Linked DNA regions of Homo sapiens: region 1 is linked to region 2. Evidence: fine-mapped expression QTL. A gene starts in region 2. The other region holds a variant in brackets. All regions are shown on one strand. Distances are between the middles of the regions.

Region 1 (8,336 bases), 54 kb before region 2:
GAGACAGGGTTTCACCATGTTGGCCATCAGGGTCTCAAACCCCTGACCTCAGATGATCCGCCCACCTCAGCCTCCCAAAAGTGCTGGGATTACAGGCATGAGCCACCGCACCCGGCCCCATCTCTCTTTCCATAATGTTCTTTCCTCTCTGCCCTTTCTCCTACCCACTTGTCTCCCTTCTTGGCAGCCTAGAGAACTTAAATTCATTCTTCAGTACTCAGCTCAAAGGTTACCCACCCTGGCACTTTCCCCTTCCCTTCCCTCTCCCCGTCTCGCACATGGTATGCAGAATTCTAAGATGGCCTCCAAGATTTCTGTCTCCTGGTATACACATCTTACATAATCCCCTCTCCTTGAGTGTTGGCAGCATTTGTGAATATGATGGGATGTCACTCTCTTGATTATGGTAAAAAGGATTTTGCAGATGTAATTAAGGTCCCTAATCAGCTGATTTTGGGTTAATCAAAAGGGAGTTTAGTCTGGCTAGGTCTGTCCTAATTAGGGGAGACCTTCAAAAAGGGACTAGGGGCCAGGCATGATGGCTTATGCCTATAACCCAGCACTTTGGGAGGCAAGAGGACCTCTTGAGCCCAGGGGTTGTAGAACAGCTGAGGCAGCATAGGAAGACCCCCATCTCTACAAAGAAAAAATTGTTTTAATTAGCCAGGCATGGTGGCATATGCCTGTAGTCCCAGCTACTTGGGAGGCTGAGCGGGAGGATGGCCTAAGCCCAGGAGTTCGAGGCTGCAGTGAGCTGTGATCGCATCACTGCACTCCAGTCTGGGTGACAGAGTGAAACCCTGTCTCAAAAATAAATAAATAGCCAGGCACGCTGGCTCATGCCTGTAATCCCAGCACTTTGGGAGGCCGAGGCAGGTGGATCACCTCAGGTCAGGAGTTTGAGACCAGCCTGGCCAACATGGTAAAACCCCATCTCTACTAAAAATACAAAATTAGCTGGGCATGGTGGTACATGCCTGTAATCTCAGCTACTCAGGAGACTGACATGGGAGAATCACTTGAACCCAGGAGGTAGAGATTGGAGCAAGCCAAGATCATACCATTGCACTCCAGCCTGGGCAACAAGAGCAAAACTCTATCTCAAAATAAATAAATAATAAAACCCTGAAAACAAAAAGGGACTAGGATCCTCCCTGAAGTCAAAGAGAATTTCCTGCTAGTCTTGAAGAAGAAAGCTGCCACCTTATGAGAGGATGTGTGAAGTGGGCCATGTGACAAAGACTTGAGGGAAGCCTCTAGTTGATAAGAGTGGCCCCTGGTGACAGCTGCCAAGACAACAAAGGCCTCAATCATACAGATGCAAGAAACTAAATTCTGCCAACAATCACGTGAGCCTGGAAGAGGACCTCAACCTCCAGAAAGAAATGCAACCCGGCAGACACCTTGATTGTCAGCTTGTGAGACCCTGAGCAGAGGACTTGGTTCAGCCATACCTGTACCCCTGACACATGGAAACTGTGAGATAATACATTGTTGTTGCTTTAAGCTGCTAAATTGTAGTAATTTATTACATAGTAGTAGGAAACTAATACCACCACCCCTCCCAAGAATTCTTCATCTTCTGGATTCTGTAGCACATTGCACTCATCAGTATTATAACCCTCCCTACACCATATCATACTTATCCCCCACACATCTGCCACCCTACTGTCACTGCAATCCCAGGCCCAGTCTTCTTTGGGCGTGGTACCAAGTATCTGGGAGCTAATAGGTAGGAAGTAATACATGCTTGTTGAATTAATGTCATGCAAACCCAAAATTGGCTGCTATCTCTACTGCCTGAGTATTTTTAACAGAGGTAATCTTTTCTTTTTCTTTTTCTTTCTTTTCTTTTCTTTTTTTTTAGACCAAGTCTCACTCTGTTGCCCAGGCTGGTGTGCAGTGGTGTGATCTCAGCTCACTGCAACCTCTGCCTCCTGGGTTCAAGCGATTCTAGTGCCTCAGCCTCCCGAGTAGCTGGGACTACAGGCGGGAGTCACCACGCCCAGCTAATTTTTGTATTTTTAGTAGAGACAGGGTTTTACCATGTTTACCAGGCTGGTCTCGAACTCCTGACCTCAGATGTTCCACCCAGCTTGGCCTCCCAAAGTGCTGGGATTACAGGTGTGAGCCACCGTGCCCGGCCAGAGGTAATCTTTCTGACATCTTGTGTGTGTGTAGGGCTGGCTCAGTTGTCCATAACATTTTGTATGTACATACATAGATTTAATTATTAATTTAATGAATTCTATAGTAGCCCCTAAAAGAAGATATGGTTTCAGATTTCCCCTCTGGTTTTAGGCTATAACATTTCTCTTGAATGTTCTGAGAATATCAGATCCTCCATGACAATGTCTTTAAAATTGTGTCGAGTAACACTAACCCTTAAATGGGCTGTGGGCAGCTGTCAAGTTTCAGGCCTCAACTCTTGGCAAGACATTGTCTCTCTCAGAGGCCTTTAGAATGTCTCCAAAGCACGCTACAGTGTATCTGCTGAACTGTTAGCCAACAGCCTCTGTATCTCATGGGCAGGTATCAGTTTCACTGTTGTAATATCCCCTCAACAACCATTGCAATGGCCAGGACATGTGGCCTGGCCTGTGGTTCAGAAACATAGTCACTGTAGCCATATATGACCCCAGAAACAGGGAACAGGTCTATGAGGTTGATTTGCCTGATTCCTACTCCACCCCCACATATGTGTATGCACACACACAGACACATACATGCATGTGTGCACACACACCCATATACATGCAGGTGTGCACACACACCCATATACACGCATGTGTGCACACACATGCACCCACCTTATTGGCGCCACTGATAATATAAAATACCTGTAACAAGGGACAGAACTTTTTATTTTTCTATGTGTAAGAAGATTTATGGGGTAAAAGCTCCTGAATAGGCCGGGCGCGGTGGCTCGTGTCTGTAATTCCAGCACTTTGGGAGTCTGAGGCAGGTGGATCACAAGCTCAAGAGATCAAGACCATACTAGCCAACATGGTGAAACCCCATGTCTACTAAAAATACAAAACTTCGCTGGGCGTGGTGGCGCACTCCTATAGTCTCAGCCACTAAGGAGGCTGAGGCAAGAGAATTGCTGGAACCCTGGAGGTGGAGGTTGCAGTGAGCCAAGATCACGCCTGGGAAACAGAGCGAGACTCCAGAAAAAAAAAGAAAGAAGAAGAGAGAGAGCGAGAGAAAGGAAGAAAAAAGAAAGGAAGGAAGGAAGGAAGGAAGGAAGGAAGGAAGGAAGGAAGAGAGAGGAGGGATTTCTCAAGGATCAGCGTATCTAAGCCAAAGGCCTTAGGGGAAGGGAGAGAAAGGAAGTGCGGGGCTTGGCAGGCACCTCTCCCTGCCTTTGATTCAGACATTCCTGGTGCTTACTGGGTGTAGACACTTTTCTCTCAGCCTGCTTCCTTGTAGGCAAAATGGGTGTAATAATCGCACTCACCTCATGGGGTTATTTTAAGAATTATATGAAACAATGCATGTTAGGCAGACAATTCAAGGCTCAGCACACAGAAAGCCACCCTTTAGCTATTACCAGTATTTGACCTGTAATCAGGCTCAAAGAGTGTCTTTTAGGGTCTCAAAAATTGGGTGCAAATTGGCTCTCCTCAGTAGTTGGTGGTTGCTCATCAGGTGTTTAGGACGTCTGCAAAGTAAGGAGGTCTGACAGACTCCTCATTGTAAGCTGTTCCCTAGTCACTCTGCCCCCATAC[T/C]GGGAGTGGCAAGGGAGGCATTTGGCAAGAAACCCAGCAGTGAGACAATAGGTGTGAAAGATGAACAGGAAGTGTGGTTTGGAAGCAAGTGCTAGCACCAAACCACTCATGGAGAACACCTAATCTGGCTGCTGATTGGGCGCTGAGCCATCACTCATATCAAGCTTCAATGGGAAGGTTTGTATCCATGCCCAAACTTACAGCACACGGACCTTCACCAGGGAGATTGACTGAACTGGTGACCAAGGGCTCCCTTGAGACAGCATGGCCTTTGGCCTTCCAGGTTCAAATCCTAGGTCACTCAGTTACTACCTGAGGCACATTATTTAACCTCTTGGAGCCCCATCTGTCTTATCTTTGAAACAGGCATGGCTGTTGGGAGGGTTAGTGGAGATAACATGGAAAGAGCCTAGCACAGGGCCTGGCCCACTCCACAAATGCGAGCTCCCTCCCATTTCCCCTCCCAGGCATCTGAGACACCCCTCCACCCCTTCCTTGTCTCCTCACTGAAGACAGTTAAGCATGCTGTCTGGGGATGACGCCAGTTCTTGATTATTTGATATTGCCACACATCTGGCCTTATCACTGACTATTGACTATAAGACTGGCTGCCCTCTGCTCCACCTGGCTCCTTCCGGCCAGGTGGCTTCTCCTGACGCACTTGGACAACAGTGAAGGGTTGGGCCAGGTCGCCTGGTGGCACCAGGGTTGATGTGAAAGAGTTTTTCCTCAATATTCCAAACTTAAGAGAAGGAATGACTTTAAAAATGCATATGTATCTGCATGCCTGAAACACACACCTTTGAGAAGTTTCCTTCCTTTGAGTACCCAGACTGCAGTTGTTCTGACAAGTGCCCTGCCTGATCCTCCCTCTGAACACTTTCGTAGTTCCCAAGCTTCTCTTCCAGATAATCTAGGGTTCCTGTTTCTCAGCTCATCTCCTAAATGTTGGGGTTCTAGGAGATTCTGCCGTCAGTGCCCCCACCCACCATGCTCTCTGCATGACCTCAACCACAGCCATACCCTGCTGAGTTCCGAATCCATCTGCCTGGCTCTTCTGCCCACACATCTGCATACACAGCTGCCTCCATTTCCACCTGGTGGTTCTTAGACTTAACGTGTACAAAACAGAATGATGGATCTTCTTGACACACACCTAATTCTTCTATATTCTGTGCCCCAGTAAATGGCATGTCCTGCAAACCCAGAAGCATAAGCAAATCTCTTGATCTCCCTCTTCTGTTAATTCTATTTCCTTAGTATCTCTTGACTGTATCCCCTCCTTCCCATCTACCTTCCACCTCTGCATTCTGGCTGCCGCTGTATCTCCCCTGTAACACGGGAACCACGGCCTCAGTGGGCTCCTTGCTTCTAGTCGTTGTTCTCCACCATTGCCCCTAGAGACAACTTTCTAAAATGTAAATCTGACGGCACGCCTCCTCTTACTTAAAAATCTCTCAGCCAGGAGCGATAGCTCACGCCTGTAATCCCAGCACTTTGGGAGGCTGAGGCGGGCAGATCATGAGGTCAGGAGATTGAGACCAGCCTGACCAACATGGAGAAATTCCGTCTCTACTAAAAATACAAAAATTATCCGAGCGTGGTGGTGCATGCCTGTAATCCCAGCTACTCGGGAGGCTGAGGCAGGAGAATCGCTTGAATCCGGGAGGCGGAGGTTGCAGTGAGCCAAGATTGTGCCATTGCACTCCAGCCTGGCAACAAGAGTGAAACTGTCTCAAAAACAAAAACAAAAACCTCTCAAGGGCCCTTTCTCAGTCAAGGTCCAGACGGGGAACTGAAATCACACCAGCTATTGTAACACATTGTAACAGGGTCAATTTAAGATAAAGAATTGTTTACTAGGTCCAAAACAAAAAAGAATTGTTAACTTCAACTTGGAAAGTGAAATGACAAAGAGAACACTGAGGTATCACTGAGGCAGCAACTGCAGGAAACAGCTACTCCTCCTCCCAGGACTGTGGGAACAAAGGGAAAAAGGTGGGATTATTCATTTAGGGAGGAGGGATCCATGGCTTTAATGATAAGAAACAAACTAGTATGACATGCAAAGTCCTCGTGGTCTGTCCCCTGCTTTCTTTCTGGCTTCCTCTGTAGTCACAGCACCGGCTTCCTCATCCTCAGCCCAGGCTGAGCCACTCTGCTCTCACCACTCCATGCTTTTTACACGTGCAGCTGCTGCCTGGAATACTGTTCTTCACCCTTTTTCCTGGTAACTCACCATTCATTCACAAGACTTTGCTGACCGCTGCCCCACTTCAGGCTGAGTTCAGTAGCCCCCTTTCTTTTCTTTTCTTTTCTTTTTTTATTTTTTTGAGACGGAGTTTCACTCTTGTTGCCCAGGCTGGAGTGCAATGGCACAATCTCAGCTCACTGCAACCTCCACCTCCTGGGTTCAAGCGATTCTCCTGCCTCAGCCTCCTGAGTAGCTGGGATTACAGGCAAATGCCACCACACCTGGCTAATTTTTTGTATATTTTAGTAGAGACAGGGTTTCACCATGTTGGTCAGGCTGGTCTCGAACTCCCGACCTCAGGTGATCTGCTCACCTCAGCCTCCCCAAGTGCTAGGATTACAGGCATGAGCCACCGTGCCCAGCCTCAGTGGCCCCCTTTCTTTTATTTTTTTGAGACAAGGTCTTGCTCTGTCACCCAGGCTAGGTGCAGTGGCACGATCTCAACTCACTGCAGCCTCAACCTCCCGGGCTCAAGCAATGCTCCCATGACAGCCTCCCAAGTAGCCAGGACTACAGGCACGTGTCACCATGCCCAGCAAATATGTAAATGTTTTGTAGAGACGGGGTTTCACCATGTTGCCCAGGGTGGTCTTGAACTCCTAGACTTAAGCCATCCACCTGCCTCGGCCTCCGAAAGTGCTGGGATTACAAGTGTGAGCCACCGTGCCCAGCCTCAGTGGCCCCCTTTCTTAAGGGCACCCATAACATGCTGGTCATATCACTACCACATCACACTGTATCATCATTGTCAGTTTAGTCATCTACGAGCTCCATGGGACAGGACAGGGGCAGTCCCTTTTTTCTCTTTGCCCCTCCAGTTTTCAGTATTGGCAGGTACCATGCACTCATTACATTGTTGAGTATTAAAATCAAACCCATGTTGCCTCTCATATAAATAAATAGTATTCTCCTGCCTGATTTCCCCACCAAATCCAACCTTCCTAAGGGCCAGCTCTGGTCCTATCTCTCTAATAATCAAAAAATCTTCAGTGGCTCCCCATTGTCTGTGGCATAAAGTCCAAACTCCTTAGCATGCCATGTCTGGTGTTGTCTCTGACCTTGCTATCTAGGCTTATTGCCCCCTACACCCCTGCATGCACCACCCCTGCCAGGCTCCTCCCATGCCAGGCCACTCTATTTCCTCAGCACCTTGGACTCTGTCCCTCTGGATCAGAGTTCACTCTGTTACCTTCACCTGGAATACCTTTTGGGGCTACCTTTCCCTGTTGCAATTCTCACCAACCTTCAGGGCCTGGTTCCTAGACCATCTGCCTCAAGAATCCTTCCTGCATCCTCCTGAAGCAGTGGAGGATCAAGTCTCGAATGTTGAACAGGACCTTTATATCCCTATGGGGTCGGTCTAGCTTCTACTCACTAGTCTCACCTTCTCTCTTCCCACTCACCTCTTTGCTCTGTCTGCCCTAGAATGCTGGCCTTCTCTGGGCTCCTGACATGTGCCAGGCTGTTCCATGCTGCTCAGCCATTGTGCATGCTGTTCCTTCTGTCTGGAAGGCTGTCCTGCTCACCCTTCACCCACCTCACTTTCCTGACCCCAGACCATGTGAGCGCTCTCTATTGGCATTCTGTGTGTGACCTTTTATTCAGTTGTGTCTCCCGGCTCTGCTGGACTCTATACTGCATGAAAGAAGAGACTGTGTGTATCTTTTTAATTATTATTATTATTATTATTTTAAACGGAGTTTCGCTCTTGTTGTGCAGGCCAGAGTGCAATGACGCGATCTCGGCTCACCACAACCTCTGTCTAACAGGTTCAAGTGATTCTCCTGCCTCAGCCTCCTGAGTAGCTGGGATTACAGGCATGCGCCAGCACACCCAGCTAATTTTGTATTTTTAGTAGAGACGGGGGTTTCTCCATGCTGGTCAGGCTGGTCTCGAACTCCTGACCTCAGGTGATCCGCCCGCCTCAGCCTCCCAAAGTACTGGGATTACAGGCATGAGCCACTGCAGCTGGCTACTTTTTATTATTTTTATTTTTTGAGATAGATTCTCGCTCTGTCACCCAGGCTGGAGTGCCGTGGAACAAATCCGGCTCACTGCACCTTCTGCCTCCCAGGCTCAAGCAATCCTCCCACCTCAGTCTGCTGAGTAGCTAGGATTACAGGCGTGCACCACACTCCTGGCTAATTTTTTTTGTATTTTTAGTAGAGATAGAGTTTCACCATGTTGGCCAGGCTGGTCTCGAACTCCTAACCTCAGGTGATCCGCCCTCCTCGGCCTCCCAAAGTGCTGGGATTACAGGTGTGAGCCACCATGCCCAGCCCTGTGCGTGTCTTGTTATCATTCTATCCCTAGTGCTTAGCACAGTGCCTAGGCATACCAGATGCTCAAAA
Region 2 (8,336 bases):
CAGCCTGACCAACATGGTGAAACCCTGTCTCTTCTAAAAATACAAAAATTAGCCGGGCATGGTGGTGCGCGCCTATAATCCCAGCTACTCAGGAGGCTGAGGCAGGAGAATCACTTGAACCCAGGAGGGGCAGGTTGTGGTGAGCTGAGATCGCACCACTGCGCTCTAGCCTGGGCAACAGAGCCAGACTCCATCTCAAAAAAGAAAAGAAAGGACTTGAGAGCTGTGACACAGAAAAGTAACTGCTGTGCATCTGAGTTTCTTCATCTTTAAAATAAGAAATAATAGCATCTTCCTGAGGATAGCTCAGGCCCCTAGACTGCTTTTGTCACTTTTAAGCTTATGAGGTTTGGGGTACTGACAAAGATTCTCTCCTTGACCAAACTTTACCCACGCTGTTCTGATCTGTCTTCTCAATAGGCTCTGACTTTTGGACTTCCATGACTCTGCATTGTCCAATTTTAGGAAGAATCCTGCTAAGTTAGTTTAGCCAGAATCTCCCCTTACTCCCAATATTTCCTTTTAGTAATTTTCCATCCACTGACCCTGATTTTTGGCTGTAAATCCCTACTTTTCCTTGTATTTGGAATTGAGCCCGATCTCTCCTTCCTACTACAAAACCCCATTGTCATAGGCCCTTGTATTACCTATCTTGGCAGTCCCCCTTGAATAAAGATTTGCTTTACAATTTTTTTTTTTTTTTTGAGAAGGAGTCTCGCTCTGTCGTCCAGGCTGGAGGGCAATGGTGTGATCTTGGCTCACTGCAACCTCCACCTCCTGGGTTCAAGCAATTCTCCTGTCTCAGCCTCCCAAGTAGCTGGGATTACAGGTATCCACCACCATGCCCGGCTAATTTTTTGTATTTTTAGTAGAGATAAGATTTCATTATGTTGGCCAGGCTGGTTTCGAACCCCTGACCTCAAGTTATCCGCCCGCCTTGGCCTCCCAAAGTGCTAGGAGTACAGGTGTGAGCCACCGCCTCTGGCCTGCTTTACAGTTCTTTAACAAATGTCATGAAGTATTTTTTCTTTAACAGTATAATTATTTGGCCTCTCAGAACCTCGGTTTCCTCATCTGTAAAATGAACAGATTGTCCAGACTATTTCACAGGGTTTTTGAAAATGTCAGAGGAGATCATTATGATATGTGAAAATATTTTAAATTGCATTATCTATTATGTAAATGTAAGATGGAAATTTAAAGGAAACACATACACAGTTTTTTCATGGGTTGAGATCTCTTGCTATTGGTCAGCAGAGCCTCAGGAATGCAAGTAGACAATGAATTAGATAACTGCTTATACTGATTCCCTGCATTGGCAGGGAAAAGGCCAATGCAAATTATCAGGATGTACTGTGTGGACTACCAATCTTATCTTAGATCAGTGATACAACAATCCAACTAAATGCTCCTAAGTGGACACCTCATAAAATAATTATTGTATGGCATTTGTCAAAATTTTAAATGCTTTACAGCTCCTTTGTTTGTTCTTGTTTTGTCTGTGGGATTTCATTTCTAGGAAAATAACTAAATGGACTAAGTTTAAAAAAAAAAAACACCAATCATGTACATTACTAAGGGCAGACAGTCCATCTTCTGGATATTTCTGAAGATGCTCAATAAACGTTAATCAAAGTAGGTAATGATTCCCAACATGGGCTATTGTGTCTTCCACGTTTATTTTCTACACTTGATGTTAGCCAAAAGGCCAAGGAGCAATTCCATTTTCTTTCTTTCCTTCTTTCTTTTCTGAGACAAGTCTCACTCCGTCGCCCAGGCTGGAGTGCAGTGGCGCCATCTCAGCTCACTGCAACCTCCATCTCCCGGGTTCAAGCAATTCTCTGCCTCAGCCTCCTGAGTGGCTGGGATTACAGGCGCCCGCCACCAAGCCCAGCTAATTTTTTTGTATTTTTAGTAGAGACGGGGTTTCACCATCTTGGCCAGGCTGGTCTTGAACTCCTGACCTCGTGATCCACCCGCCTCAGCCTCCCAAAGTGCTGGGATTACAGGTGTGAGCCACCGCGCCTGGCCGTTTATTTTAATATATTCTTCAGCTCTGAATATTTGCTAGTATCCCAGTAATAGTTTGTTAAATCAATAAACGTGTTGACATACATGCATAGCATAATGTCTGGCACACAGTAGGTACTCCATTGAATGAATGCATGAATTATTACCGTGTCAATTTGCTTGTCTATTTGCAAATGTTAATAGTTAATTTGATCCCTAAAGTGTTTGTGAACTTAAAACACACACATACGCACTTTCCCTGACAACGCTTATCTGCTAACCCCTTAATTATGTTCATCTGAGACTGGACCAAAACATGTTGTTTTATTCAATTTAAATACCAAATTCAAATTTATTTTGAATATAGCTTAGAACACATTCAATGTTTGCTAAAATAATAATAATAATAATAATAATAATAATAATAATAATACCATGTACATTCAGTTAGCCAGACAATTACTCCAGCCCAAATACCCTGCTATGGGACATGAACCGGATGTCTGCCCGGCACACATTCATCAGGTGACCCCTAAAACTTCTTCTCTAAGGTCCACACTGTCTAATAGCCAAGTTGAAATCTTTCCTCGAAATTTTCCTCTCTAGTGTCTCAGTGCCCCAGGTGTCATCAAGGTGTCAAAGGCGCTTGGGAGTGCCTGCAAACCGCCCCATCCCCGGAGACACAGCCTCATTCCCCGCCCTCGCGCCTAGGCGGCCGGTGGGCGGGCCCAGCGAAGGGCCTTGTGGCTGTTTCCTATTGGGGCTTGGTTGCTATGGTGTCACTCGCCTTTAAACTCGTGGGTACATCTTTCGGAAATTAAAGGAGAATTACTTCCAGGGCTGCCCATACTTGCCATGGCCGACTCAGTAGTCACTAACTTCAACAAAAATAAAACTGTTGCAATAGTATTCTATTAAAGCTTCTTTAACTGCTTAAACTTGCGGTTTTGACATGGTACCTATCCTTTCTTCCCTTTTCAAAAGATTCGCTATAGAGTCTTTCTCTACATGCCAGTCTCCAAAATGGCGCGGACGGCATCAGAAGGTCAGAGGTGAGTCACGTGGGTCCCCCCGGTTCCGGCGCGGTTGAGGCCTTCGGTGGTGAACGAGTCTCCAGCACCATGTCTGGTTTGTCTGGCCCACCAGCCCGGCGCGGCCCTTTTCCGTTAGCGTTGCTGCTTTTGTTCCTGCTCGGCCCCAGATTGGTCCTTGCCATCTCCTTCCATCTGCCCATTAACTCTCGCAAGTGCCTCCGTGAGGAGATTCACAAGGACCTGCTAGTGACTGGCGCGTACGAGATCTCCGACCAGTCTGGGGGCGCTGGCGGCCTGCGCAGCCACCTCAAGGTGCGGCATTGGGCGACGTGGGGCCGGGAGGGAAGACGGCAGGCTTAGGCGAGGGGAGGCTCGGGTTCGGGGGAGTCGGGCCGGCGGAGGCCTGGGAGTTGTTCTGGCCTCCCGGGAGCGCAAAGGACGTGCGGTGGAGCCCGCCCCCTCACCCCGCTGGTTGCCTGTCGCGGGGCGGGGCGGGTCACCAACGCCTGGGAACCCCAAGAAGGGCTGCGAGGCTTTGGCGGATGTGGTGACACCTGAGCTGGGGCGGTTGTCAACGTCCTATACCAGTTTTGGTCTCAGATACATTGAACCGTAATTTGGTTCTCCAAATAAATGTTGGGGTGTTGAATATTTATACGGATTGGCATCATAAGATACCGCGATACCTGCAGGAAAGTAAAGGAGACAGAGCTAACCGTGATTAATAAAATGTTATTTATTGAGCATCTGCTGTGTCAGTTACTGTGCTACTTTGCATATATTACCATTTGGTTCATGCACTACCCTATGAAGTAGGTAGGTACTGTTAGCCCCATTTTACAAATGAGGAAACTGAGACTCAGAGGTAGGATAAACTAGTAAGTGTCACAGATGGAATAGATTCTTTTTTTTTTTTCAAAATTATTATTATACTTTAAGTTCTAGGGTACATGCGCACAACTTTCAGGTTTGTTACATATGTATACATGTGCCGTGTTGGTGTGCTGCACCCATTAACTCGTCATTTACATTAGGTATGTCTCCTAATGCTATCCCTCCCACCTCCCCCCACCCCACGACAGGCCCCGGTGTGTGATGTTCCCCACCCTGTGTCCAAGTGTTCTCATTGTTCAATTCCCACCTATGAGTGAGAACATGCGGTGTTTGGTTTTCTGTCCTTGCGATGGAATAGATTCTTACTTAGTTTGGTAGTTAAGTATGTTGAGGGAAAAGCGCTGCAACCTTATTCCTTCCTTGTTTTAAATTTGTAATTTCTGTAGTTGATTAAAGTCGATTATTGGTTACAAAATGGTCTCAGTCTCTAGTCCTTTTTCTTTGGTATGCCAGAATCTGGACTTGGCTCTTTTATGTAAATACCAACTATGCTCTTGGATGGTGACAACTACTGCCATAATACCAGTTTGATTCTGTTTTGTAGCTAAGAGTAGCCTGGCCTGGTCTTTGAGACATTAATATAATTTGATATCTGTCAGTATTTGGTTGCATTTTAGGTAATTTTATTCATTCACAATAAGCAAAGTGTCTTTTTTTTTCTTTGTAACACAATGGGGCTTTTGTTATACTAAATAGAAACATTTTTACTTTTTTTTTTTTTTTTTTTTTTTTTGAGACGGAGTCTTGCTCTGTCGTCCAGGCTGGAGTGCTGTGGCGCGATCTCGGCTCACTGCAGCCTCTGCCTCCCGGTTTCAAGCAATTCTCCTGCCTCAGCCTTCCGAGTAGCTAGGACTACAGGCGCCAGCCACCACACCCAGCTAATTTTTGTATTTTAGTAGAGATGACGGTTCACCATGTTGGCCAGGATGGTCTTGATCTCTTGACCTCGTGATCTGCCCGCCTCGGCCTCCCAAAGTGCTGGGATTACAGCCGTAAGCCACCGCGCCTGGCCTCGTTTTTACTTTTTAAAAGGGTTTCAGATATAATAAGACCATAACTTATGTTAAAGTAGTGGAACCCAGTAGTGTGGTAATACATGTAATTTATTTCTACTTTATTTGGGAGAGACAAACTATTTTCAGGGCAATTAATCTGTGACCCATCATTTTATTATTCTGTTTGGGTATCAAACTCTCTACCCAGGAAAATAGTGATGGCATGATTTTAGAAGCTTAGATATAGTGTTTCCGGGGTGGGAGATCATGCTTCCAACTCTTCAGAGGATGTTCATGGACTCAGGGAATTTCAGCAATGAAAGAGACCTTGCTCTCATCTCGTGTTGCTGTCTGATTTGTTCTTATATTTTAAAGCCCTTCAGTGGCTCACTATTGCTTATTGATAGTTTAAATTTCTCAACATGCTTTGTTGTGCTCTTCATGATCTGTTTCTGAGCTATACGTGTGGTCACTTCCCACTTTGCATTCTACATGGAGCCACCCTGGACAGTACCCTGAACTCACTTATTTTCTGAACTGTTTTTGTTTATGCCTTGACCTACTTACTAGACTGTTAGTATCCTCAGGGTAGGAACTATTTTCAGGTTCATCTTTTCTAGAATGCCAAGCATGTTACCTTGCTTCTAGTAAGTACTCTATAAATAACAGGAACTGTAGTTTAGCATGGCCTTATGGGAATTACATTGAATTTAGGGCTGCTGAAGGCACCTCAACAGCAGGACTTTAGGCCGGGCTTGGTGGGTCATGCCTGTAACCCTAACTCTTTGGGAGGCCGAGGCGGGTGGATCACCTGAGGTCAGGAGTTCAAGACCAGCCTCAGCAACATGCTAAAATCCAGTCTCTACTAAAAATACAAAAATTAGCTGGGCATGGTGGCGTGTGCCTGTAATCCCAGCTACCCGGGAGGCTGAGGCAGGAGAATCACTAGAACCTGGGAGGCAGTGGCTGCAGTGAGCTGACACCGTGCCACTGCACTCCAGCCTGGGCAACAGAACAAGACTCGGTCTCAAAACAAAACAAAACAAAGCAAAACAAAAACCAGCAGGACTTTGTGCACACACCCTAGCACTTTACTATCACTCAGTTGCTCTCCTGTGTCTGCTCTGTTCTTTTGCTACTAACCAGCTTAATGGAACCACAAGGGTCCTAAACCCAAATGCCAAATAGGTAATATCATTGAATAAATTGGACCAGGTATTTTAAAAAAAAAAGCAGTGATGATAAATGGGAGAATAATTGGACGTAGTAGAAACTGTTAATTAGGGGTGACCAATACTTAGTTCTTGATGAGACTTGCCATGCAAGCATGTGGGCCTTTTTGCCACATCTGATTTTTCCCTTCCCCTCCCCTCCCCTCTTCCTTCCCTTCCTTCCTTTCTTCCTCCCTCTCTCCCTCCCTCCCTCCAGTGGCACCATCACAGCTCACTGCAGCCTTGACCTCCTCAGGGCCCAGGTGATCCTCCTACTTCAGGCTCCTGAGTAGCTGGGATTACAGGCACATGCCACCATATCCGGCTAGTTTTCATATTTGTTTGTAGAAATGGAGTTTCGCCATGTTACCCAGGCTGGTCTCGAACTCCTGGGCTCAAGTGATCCGCCCATCTCGGCCTCCCAAAGTGCTCGGATTACAGGCATGAGCCATTGCACCTAGCCCACATCTGATTTTTCAAATGAAATAGGAACACCAGATTTTGATGTGAAAGCTCCAGACTTTTAAATTTCATCAGCCAGGTTTCAGCACTGCAGAGCTTGGGAGCTCCCGGCCCACCCGAGGGCCATGGATCTCATTGTCCTCACCACTGCTTTGCCACTCCATTTTCCTCAATAAAATGGTTTGGCCCCCTAAAAATTAAAAAAAAAAAATTTCACCAGCCAATTCAGATTGGTTCGGGCATTGATTTGTTTTCAGTGTTATAGGGAATAGTATAGTGAGTTCACCTTTCTACCCATTACTCATATTCACCAATTATCAGGATCTTTCCACACGTGTCATCTTAACTGCTTCTGCCATATCATTTCATGCTAAATTGTATTAAAGTAAATCCCAGATGTCATGTATTTCATTCCTGCCTACTTCAGCATGCATCTCTTTAAAAATATAAACCACAATGTTACGTGGCTAATCACGCCTCACAAAATGAACAATGATGGCCAGGCGCGGTGGCTCATGCCTGTAATCCCAGCACTTTGGGAGGCCGAGGTGGGCGAATCACGAGGTCAGGAGTTCGAGACCAGCCTGACCAACACGGTGAAACCCCGTCTCTACTAAAAATTTAAAAAAAAATTAGCTGGGCGTGGTGGCACACATCTGTAATCCCAGCTGCTCTAGGCTGAGGCAGGAGAATCTCTTGAACCTGGGAGGCGGAAGTTGCAGTGAAGTATGATTGTGCCACTGCACTCCTACCTGGGCTACAGAGTGAGACTCTGTCTCCAAAAAAAAAAAAAGAACAATGATTCCTTGATACCCAGTCCATATAGTATGATCCCACTTGTCTCAAAAATATCTTTTGAAAGTTAATTTGTTGTCTCTCTCAAGTGTCTAATCTAGAGCAGTCTCCTCTTCCTCTCACCTCCTTTTTTATCCTTGCAATTGAATTGTTGGAGTCAATTGCTCTTAAAAGAATGTACAGCATTTCGGAGTTGTCTTTTGCTTCCTAGAGGTGTCTTTTAACCAGTTCTTCCACTATATTTTTTGTAAAAGGAATCAGCTGTAAAGATGTAACCAGAGGTTCAGCAAACCACCATGGCACACGTATACCTATGTAACAAACCTGCACGTTCTGCACATGTACCCCTCCAGAACTTAAAGTGTAAAAAAAAAAAAAAAGATGTAACCAGATTCAGGTTTAATCTTTCTGTCGAGGGTGTCACTGCAGGAACACACAGTACTTTTTGTGCCCCTTATTGCTGCTGCTAAGATTGATAAGTGGATTAAGGTGTGTCTTAGTGTCCTATTGCTGCTGTAACAAATTACCACAGATTTATGGCCTAAAACATCAGGGATTTGTCTTAATCGTTCTGAAGGTCAGAAGTCCTAAAATCAGGGTTTTGGCAGAGCCATGTTTCTTCTGGAGACTTTTTGGGAGTGGGGTGGGGATCAGTTTTCTTGCCCTTTCTAGCTTCTAGAAGCCACTTGTATTCTTTGGCTCATATCTCCTTCCTCCATCTTTAAAGCCAGGCTGGGCGCGGTGGCTCTCGTCTGTAATCCCAACGCTTTGGGAGGCCAAGGCGGGCAAATCACTGAAGGTTAGGAGTTTGAGACCAGCCTGGCCAACATGGTGAAACCCCGTCTTCACCAAACATACAAAAATTAGCTGGGCATGGTGGTGCACACCTGTAGTCCCAGCTACTCAGGAGACTGAGGCAGGGGAATCGCTTGAAC

What was found.
Region 1: its variant is fine-mapped to the expression of TMED10 in whole blood (TOPMed, PIP above 0.99).

The regions. Positions count from the first base shown.
Region 1 is chr14:75,225,744-75,234,079 of GRCh38, reverse strand. No RefSeq gene overlaps it. Among named protein-coding and RNA genes, the nearest start is that of FOS, 49 kb to the left of the region's middle. RefSeq lists a cis regulatory region at 3,782-4,337. The variant T/C (reference allele first, on the strand shown) is at 3,732.
Region 2 is chr14:75,171,375-75,179,710 of GRCh38, reverse strand. TMED10 (transmembrane p24 trafficking protein 10) reads left to right here and starts at 3,099. Exons shown (of 5, transcript NM_006827.6): 1 at 3,099-3,356. The coding sequence starts at 3,132. RefSeq lists enhancers at 2,949-3,188, 2,703-3,275.